Regions from separate parts of the Homo sapiens genome. Here regions 1 and 2 are each reported to be linked to region 3. The links are microRNA targets in miRTarBase. Many come from high-throughput screens and were not tested one by one. Region 3 holds a microRNA gene; each other region holds the end of a gene's coding sequence.

Region 1 (3,000 bases), not on the chromosome of region 3:
TCAGCTGTGTTTATCAAAAAGAAAGCTTCACATGGCATTTAGACAGAATTCTACTTGGTTAAATAGTTTATGCATCACCTTAGGAAAATAAGTATTACTTCTCTTTTTAAAATGCAAACTGTTAGGTTTATAATACCATTTGAAGAATTTTCCCTCTCTCTTATTTTCTCTTTTAACAACTTCTTTTTTTCCCTTCAGAGTTATAGAAAATGGAGAGAAAAATCGAATGACCTATCAGAGTATAGCAATTGTTTTTGGTCCCACTCTATTAAAACCAGAAAAAGAGACTGGTAATATAGCAGTTCATACTGTGTACCAGAATCAGATTGTAGAATTAATTCTTCTGGAACTGAGTTCCATCTTCGGACGTTGATTCTTACTGAAGACAACCTGTGGAATAGAAGCTGGATTCCATCAGATTTCAAATGTTTATACACAATGTATTTTATTTTTTGGACCAAGCAGTGACTCTTTGATTTTGCACTTTTTTTTTGAGGGATCAGAAGGGAAGGGGAGAGTCGAGATGTGTGTTAGGCCCTCATATTTGCTGCTTTGTTGCAAGTTGATATAACTGCGTGTAATTATGAATTCATTTTATCCTGAATGTTTGCATTTCATACTCTGAATTTCAGTAAAAATCAAAACTTAAAATTCTAACCAGTCATATACACTGGATAATTTGGTAAGAAAACTGTATTTTTTTTCCCTGAAATTGGATAATGTACTTTCTTCTCAAGATTCATGACTTGATAGAACAATACTTTCAGTTATGTTGCAAAGGCTCTTGGGCATTTTAAACAAAATGAAGTATATCCATTTTGAAACCTGTGTATTTCTTTTTCGGGGTTTCTGCATGCAGTGGCAGTCTTAAGTGCCAAAATTCATTATAACCCCAAAATAACCCCTTGATGAAGGCTTGCTGTCTTTTACTGTGTTACACAGCATCCTTACTGGATATCTTAGTTGCTTGTTTGGGCAGCACACTAATATTACTTAAAACACTGTGATATACTGGAGTTTTAGTTAGCGGAAGTCAGTTCAGGGCATTTTAGGGCTGTCTTGCTATACTGAATTGTAGCTAACAATCCTAATTATATCTAGTACCATACTGAGTTATTGGTATGACCCTGTGGAAACACACATTATTTTATGTAAATATAGGCTAAAGACTTAATGTCCTTTAGCTTGTGTATATAATTGTGTTGTATAGTCTCAGAGTACATTCTAACCCTACATTTCTAATCATTGTTATTGGTAATCTTTTCTGTGAATATTAGGTTTCCTCCAGAAATAGTCCGTTATTTGGGAAAGTTAACTGTGTGCACTTTTAGATATTAACTACATTTACAGGCAAATCACTGTAATGAGAATGGTACTGGAAAAATACTGAATAGACTTGCTAAATGGCACATGCACTACAAGAGGAACCTTTTGGGTTATTTAATATGTACAGAAAACATTAGAAAAAATTTATTACAGAATTCTAATTCCAGTATGAATAGTGGAAACCCATCTGTAAATTAGATGGATGTTGGATGGAAAATGACATTGCTAAATTTGAGAATTTCTTTTTACCTACTAATGTAGATTGCTTTGTATAATAAAACACAGGGTTTGGAAGGTTTTGTTACAGGGAGCATGGTCTGTTGAAGATTTTTAAAATGTATTTTTCTAGATTAACTTCTGTACATGAAATGTCTAATAAAACTATAAGAGGTTTAGAGATTTTTCCATTGGAAATGTGCATTTTGGTTTCTAATTTTTTTGTTTTTTCATTTACTGGCATACTGTTATACCTCATTTTTAAAAATCAACTGAATCCAATATTTCCTGTGGCAAATAACACTTTCCTCATTTCATACCTTTTCTCCTCTCTTCCATGCCAACATTTCTCCACCCACAACGTACACTTTTTATTTCTCCATCAATATTTGAAAGCGAGTGATTTGTGACCAGGATTTTTTTTTCTTAGGGTTGCATTTATAATTTACAGATTGCCTTCCTTGGGAACAAGTATTTTTTTGTATGATCTGTCTAAAAACCTCTCACCTGAATTTTGTGGTAGAAAGTCTGTATTTGTTGTTGTGAGCGTGTTAAATTGATAACAAACCAAACTACTTGATAGCTAAAGCAGATTGTTTCGGGTGGGGAGAAAAAGCCCTAAATCAGAATGTTTATATTTGCCTAAAGATGTCCTTAATAATACAATATGCTTTAGATCTTGCTTATTTAGTGATTGTATACCAGGAAAACAATTAGACTCAAATCAGTGATGTTCTTGTTCTTGGTGTTCATGAACATATATCAAAGATTAAAATTGTCCTGTGTTTCTTGTTTCAAGGTACGTGTGTGTGTGTGTGTGTGTGTGTGTGTGTGTGTGTGAAGTCTTAAATGTTTTATTAGTCTACAGCTAATCAGTTTATTGTAATATTGTATGTACAGTGAGATTAATGTCTTGCGTTTTCATCCTTTGTGAATTAAAAATTCTCACTTGTTTTGTAATAACAAAGCTAGTAATATTTTCCTGTCTTGACAGCTTGGTTTTATAGTAGAAAATATATTAAAAGCTGAAATAAATTATCAGTGGAATTTTATTTGTTAGTAAGTCTTCCTTCATAATGTCATTGAAAAAGGTAGTTGCAGATTTAGAAAAGAAAGTATATTTAAATACATTGTCACATTCCAATTAGAAGAAAAACACTTATTTAAATTTTATAGAAATAAGAAATTTTACCCTTTACTCTGGAGAAAGTACGTTAATTATTAAATAATCTCCAAAAAATGATGTTTATATTTTAGATAGAGACAAATCTATAAATTGTTTTTATGTGAAAAGCACAAATGAAATAATTTGGTGAAACTTTGGACTTAGTGGTAGATGGGTTGTGCGTTTATAACATACACACAAACGTGTGTGTGTGCTAAGTGTTTGTGCACGCCGTTGCTTACATACAAGTGAAAACTCACCAATAATGCAGATACATGGAGACCTTTTTACTA
Region 2 (3,000 bases), not on the chromosome of region 3:
TGAGGCTCTCCTCTCCCGGGACAGGCGGTGGAGGGCAGCGTCCTGGTCAGCTCCTCCTCTGACCATTCCTTGACCGTCTGGAAGGAGCTGGAGCAGAAGCCCACCCATCACTACAAGTCAGCATCCGACCCCATCCACACCTTTGACCTGTACGGCAGCGAGGTGGTCACTGGCACCGTGTCCAACAAGATTGGCGTCTGCTCCCTGCTTGAGCCACCCTCGCAGGCCACCACGAAGCTCAGCTCTGAGAACTTCCGCGGCACGCTCACCAGCCTGGCCTTGCTGCCCACTAAACGCCACCTCCTGCTGGGCTCAGACAACGGGGTTATCCGCCTCCTGGCATAGACTGAGGCAGGAGCTGGCCGGGCAAGGGTGGGAAGACATCTGCGGGCGCGTGTCCACTCACCCTGTTCCCTGAGCAGCAGCTCCCTCCAGGGAGGCCCTGGGTCCCACGCCCTGGGTGCCCACATGGCCTGCCAACTAGGGCCTGCAAATGGAGTGGGGGAGTCCTGGCCCCTGAATCACCAGAGCCACCAAGCCTGCCAGAGGGGTCTCATTCATGGCTTGGGGACACAGGGCTCCTAGCAAGCAGGAAGTTAAGAGCAGGAGGAAGCGTTGCTACCTTCACTTCTCCCCAGCTCTGCCCTCTGGGTCCACATGAGGACAGGGAAGCTCGGGAAGGGGAAGGGAGACTGGCCCTGCCCAGCCGGTCTCTAGCCCCTCAGCCCCCGCTGGGCACTCTCTGTCCCATCCCTCTAGGACAGGGAAGCTGGCCTGGTCCAGGGCACTGATGGTGCTTGGATTCCAGCCTAAGGAAGGCTGGCCGTGGTCCAGGAGTTAAGGGCTTGGGTCTGGGGTTTAAGTGGCCACCCATCCAGGCCCTGGCCAGTGTGGGACCGGGACGGGAAGGAAGAAGGAGGCTAGGAGCAGGGGGAAAAGGTGCACTTGGCCAGTGGCGCCTGCCAGGAGTGAGTCCATGCGTTGTCTGCCCACCCCTACCACAGTGTTTGTGCCTTCAGCTGAGGGGGCAGCCTCTGGGCCCTGAACCCCTGCTGGGGCTCCACGACCCTGAGAGAAGGGGTGAGAAGAATCATCTCTGCACCTCGGGTCTCTGCCAGAGGAAGACTTAAGCATCCCTGCGACCTCACATTCTAGACAGAGATGAGGTCCAGGGGTTGGCCCCTGCTGCCTTCTCACAATTTGCAATAGATGTAAATAGGACCAATAAATCCTTTGGAAGAGCCATGGGGTGAACTGAGGCTTGTCTTTTTTTTTTTTTTCAATAGAGATGGAGTCTGACTATGTTGCCCAAGCTGGTCTCCAACTCCTGGGCTCAAGCGATCCTCCTGCCTCGGCCTCCCAAAGTGTTGGGATTACAGGCATGAGCCACCACGCCCAGCCTGAGGCTTATCTTGCTGGTGGTGTCAGGGTGGGGAAAGTCGAGACCCAGCAGTTTCCAGGACAGTGAGGGTGGGAAGGGGCCTGATGGAGGGAGTGAGGAGCAGGACAGTGAGGGTAGGAGGCGGCCTGATGCAGGGAGTGAGGCGCAGGACAGTGAGGGTGGGAAGGAGCCTGATGCAGGGAGTGAGGCGCAGGACAGTGAGGGTGGGAAGGAGCCTGATGCAGGGAGTGAGGCGCAGGACAGTGAGGGTGGGAAGGAGCCTGATGCAGGGAGTGAGGCGCAGGACAGTGAGGGTGGGAAGGAGCCTGATGCAGGGAGTGAGGCGCAGGACAGTGAGGGTGGGAAGGAGCCTGATGCAGGGAGTGAGGCGCAGGACAGTGAGGGTGGGAAGGAGCCTGATGCAGGGAGTGAGGCGCAGGACAGTGAGGGTGGGAAGGAGCCTGATGCAGGGAGTGAGGAGCCGGACAGTGAGGGTGGGAGGCGGCCTGATGCAGGGAGTGAGGCGCAGGACAGTGAGGGTGGGAAGGAGCCTGATGCAGGGAGTGAGGCGCAGGACAGTGAGGGTGGGAAGGAGCCTGATGCAGGGAGTGAGGAGCAGGACAGTGAGGGTGGGAAGGAGCCTGATGCAGGGAGTGAGGAGCCGGACAGTGAGGGTGGGAAGGAGCCTGATGCAGGGAGTGAGGAGCAGGACAGTGAGGGTGGGAAGTGGCCTGATGCAGGGAGTGAGGAGCAGGTGTGAGGGCGGGAAGCGGCCTGATGCAGGGAGTGAGGCGCAGGACAGTGAGGGTGGGAAGGAGCCTGATGCAGGGAGTGAGGCGCAGGACAGTGAGGGTGGGAAGGAGCCTGATGCAGGGAGTGAGGCGCAGGACAGTGAGGGTGGGAAGGAGCCTGATGCAGGGAGTGAGGAGCAGGACAGTGAGGGTGGGAAGTGGCCTGATGCAGGGAGTGAGGCGCAGGACAGTGAGGGTGGGAGGCGGCCTGATGCAGGGAGTGAGGCGCAGGACAGTGAGGGTGGGAAGGAGCCTGATGCAGGGAGTGAGGCGCAGGACAGTGAGGGTGGGAAGGGGCCTGATGCAGGGAGTGAGGCGCAGGACAGTGAGGGTGGGAAGGAGCCTGATGCAGGGAGTGAGGAGCCGGACAGTGAGGGTGGGAAGGAGCCTGATGCAGGGAGTGAGGAGCAGGACAGTGAGGGTGGGAGGTGGCCTGATGCAGGGAGTGAGGAGCCGGACAGTGAGGGTGGGAAGGAGCCTGATGCAGGGAGTGAGGCGCAGGACAGTGAGGGTGGGAGGCGGCCTGATGCAGGGAGTGAGGCGCAGGACAGTGAGGGTGGGAAGGAGCCTGATGCAGGGAGTGAGGAGCAGGACAGTGAGGGTGGGAGGCGGCCTGATGCAGGGAGTGAGGCGCAGGACAGTGAGGGTGGGAAGGAGCCTGATGCAGGGAGTGAGGCGCAGGACAGTGAGGGTGGGAAGGAGCCTGATGCAGGGAGTGAGGCACAGGACAGTGAGGGTGGGAAGTGGCCTGATGCAGGGAGTGAGGCGCAGGACAGTGAGGGTGGGAAGGAGCCTGATGCAGGGAGTGAGGAGCCGGACAGTGAGGGT
Region 3 (3,000 bases):
AGGCGAGTCCTTGATCCCCACAGGCGACCTCCATTCATTCTCCACGCCCCTATACCCCGACCCCTCTCTTTAAGTTCTGGGACCAGCCCCACCCTCGCGACCCTTCCCCTCCCGCCAAGCGTCTCTACCCTGCCCTCCGCACCTAGCGTGAACCTGTCACCCCACCAAGTGAGGGACTGACGAAGGGGCCCACCTCGCCCCTGCCCGAGGGACCGAGGCCCAGGGTGCAGCCGTCCCCTCGGGGGCCAAGGAGGGGCGAAGTGCTCCGTCCGGCTCGCCTCTCCTCCCCAGGGACCCGCCAGTCCCGGCCGGGCCAGCCGGAGATAGCGTGTAATAAGAGGGAGGGGAGAGCTCTCCGAACCCCCCTTCCCCGGGATCCCTACCAAGCAAGTGAGTCTCTTGCTCCAGCCCCTCCGAGCCTCCCCGGCTGGAGTCATGGTGCCGGGGCTGCCCCAGGAAGCCCCCATAAAAAGGAGGGGGAGACACCCCCATACTCACCCACCGTCTCCTCCCCCTCAGCTGTTTACCTCACAGTCCCTCCAGCCTACAGGGCGCCGCCATCTTGGACGTACAGCACCTCCCCCGTCGTGAAAGGGCCAAGGCCGACGGCGGCCTCCGCCACGAAAAAGAGTCCCCCTCCGGACCTCCCCTCCTTCTCGAAAGGAAGGATAGACGGCCGCGCTCGGCAGCCCCGCCGGAAGGAAGAGGCTCTTCCACTCATAACTGACGATGTGGGTTGGACGAGAAAAAAAGTAAGGAGGGTTTTTATGGAGGGGGGCGGGGCCGGGCGGAAGGATCCGAAAGGAGGCTGCGAAGAGATCTTGTGACTCCGCGAAGGAGGCAAAAAGAAGGGCCGGCGCGGCGGGAGGAGCCACGCGAGAGCCCGAGGGGGCGGGGCGGGCGGTCACGTGACTGGCGGGCGGGGGGACGCGGCGGAGAGGCGTAAACAAGCTGGCGGCGCCTGGGTGTGGTTGGAGCGCCCTGCCCCTGCCCCCCGAGTCGTTTCTGCCCTTCGCTTGCGTGGCGCCCTCCGAGGGTCTCTCTGTGGGCGGCCTCAGAGCAGCGATCCTGTTTCCCAAGGAGCTGCTGGGGCCCGCGTGGGTGAAGGGCCTGCTTGGGAGCTTTGGAGTTGCAGCTCACCTGGGAAGGGGCGGAAAGCTGCGGGCCAGGGCAGCCCTCCTTCCTGGGCTAAACATTTTCAGAAGCCCGCCTCCGGGATTGCGGGGGACCCCCCTGGCTTCTGCCTTCAAGTAGCTCACACTTCACACCTACTCATGACATCTAGGGGAAACCAGCCCTAATAGGAGACAGCTTGAAAATCAGAACGCCTTATTCCGTTTCCTGCTGAAACAAGGCTTTAAGTCCTCCAAGCCTCAGTTTCTTCCTCTGTGAAATGGGCATAATGACATCTGTGACGTGAAGAATCAAGGAGATGAAGTATGGACAGCGTTTAGCCCAGAGTCCTGCGCCTAGTAAATGCTCACTCACTAGATAGGTGGCCTTTATTGCGAGGCTGAGTATGATGGGCTCCATCCAGCACGAACACAAAGCCCTGTGAGAGGAGGCAGAGTGAGATGAAGTCGAACTGTGGGATATGAAAGGCATTTTGAAGGAGTAGGCATCAGGTTGGGTTTTAAAGGAAATGTAGGTTTTGTGAAATACTAGGTCGGTGCAAAAGTCATCACGGTTTTTACCATTAAAACCGCGATGACTTTTGCATCAACCTAATAGAACCAGGCGAGGCGGCTCGGGAGAGAAGGCCATTCCAGGCAGAGGGAACCAAAGGAGCAAGAGCCTAGGGGCAAAAAAGTGTTGGGTGAGTTATGGGAATAACAGGTTTTGTCATGGGAACCAATTGGGTCACAGTGCAAGGCAGCCATGGTTAAGGGGGGCCAGGTGTGTGAGTAGCCAGCACCGTGGGTGCCTTCAGAATTCTGAAAAGGCCCTGGATGGTATCGGGTAGAGCCGCTGCTAGTCAGTATAGGGCCTTGGTGAGAATTAGAAAAATGGCACCCCTGGGCTGTATTTTGGCCCCTATCCACCAGCCCCAAACCCTCCTGGGCCCTTGAGCAGTGAACAACCTTTATAACCATACGTCTAGAGCCACGAAGGCTTAGGAGGGAGGTGAAAATTGAACTGATGATTCCTCTGTTCTAACACAGTCGCTGGGGGGAAGCTAAGAGTTCTAGATTCAAACAGACCAGAGTTTGAATGTAGGTTTCAGCCATCATGTTCTAACTGGATGAGCCTTAGTCTCCTCACCTGCAACATAGGGCTAATAATAATGCTAGTTCATGGGGATTTGGGGTGAAGTCAGTGAGTCATTAAGCTCTAAGTGGCACAGAGCCTACTCCAGTTAATGTTATTTTTGATAACTGTTAAGTGCCAGCTGTCAGCATCCATCACTTCCAGAAACGGGTCCACCAAACACTAAATTCTTCTGTGTCACCACCCAAGCATAGTCTGCATGGGGTCCAGAGATGGAAAGGTCGAGGGAAACGGGGAAGGGTCTGGGTTCTCTCAGTTCCACCAATCTGCAAACTACTTTACAGGAACAGACTCTTCCCTTTGCATTCACACCAGGGAAGGGATTCAAGATTTCTGAAATCTTCAGAGATTTCTGAGACCACCAGTGATGGGAGACCTAAGGAGGAGGGCAGGGGGAGCAGCACTGCTCTGGAGCTCTGACCCAGGAAGCCCCCCCACACCCTGACCTTCCTTGGCTCCATGACCTCATCCTGCAGGAATGCATTCTGCCATGGAGGAGAGCAGCCATAAGCAGAGCTCATCAACTGCTCACTTTCCAGGGGGCCATAACCACATTGTCACTGTTTCTACACTGTCTGGAAGAAGAATGGGCATTGTTACCTCAATATGGGACCACCAGGGGCTTGCAAGAAGAGGCTGAAGGTGACAGGCAGAGACAGCTCTACTACCATCTCCTGCCACTTACCAGGCTGGGCCACCTAGATGTTTTCTGCTTCTCTGGGGTTGATTTTT

The links. The annotated mature microRNA hsa-miR-548aw reads GUGCAAAAGUCAUCACGGUU and lies in region 3 at 1,670-1,689, shown strand. An mRNA with a match to its seed (bases 2 to 7 or 8) in the 3' UTR can be bound and repressed. Matches are read on the target gene's strand: a 7mer-m8 pairs with bases 2 to 8, a 7mer-A1 pairs with bases 2 to 7 and ends in A, and an 8mer does both.
Region 1: the mRNA of ARHGAP12 is a reported target of hsa-miR-548aw. Seed matches in the 3' UTR shown: 7mer-m8 at 477-483.
Region 2: miRTarBase lists WDR81 as a target of hsa-miR-548aw. Seed matches in the 3' UTR shown: 7mer-A1 at 1,200-1,206.

What each region holds. Positions count from the first base shown.
Region 1 is chr10:31,805,031-31,808,030 of GRCh38, reverse strand. ARHGAP12 (Rho GTPase activating protein 12) reads left to right here. Exons shown (of 20, transcript NM_018287.7): 20 at 199-2,633. The coding sequence ends at 373. Among named protein-coding and RNA genes, the nearest start is that of MACORIS, 99 kb to the right of the region's middle.
Region 2 is chr17:1,737,341-1,740,340 of GRCh38, forward strand. WDR81 (WD repeat domain 81) reads left to right here. Exons shown (of 10, transcript NM_001163809.2): 10 at 25-1,245. The coding sequence ends at 345. Among named protein-coding and RNA genes, the nearest start is that of SERPINF2, 4.0 kb to the right of the region's middle.
Region 3 is chr9:132,944,045-132,947,044 of GRCh38, forward strand. It overlaps MIR548AW (microRNA 548aw), which reads left to right and starts at 1,663; the gene lies at 1,663-1,727. It overlaps TSC1 (TSC complex subunit 1), which reads right to left and starts at 572. Exons shown (of 23, transcript NM_000368.5): 1 at 499-572. It also overlaps a transcript of GFI1B not described here. RefSeq lists silencers at 180-239, 300-359, 890-969 and enhancers at 444-1,177, 490-789, 1,150-1,289.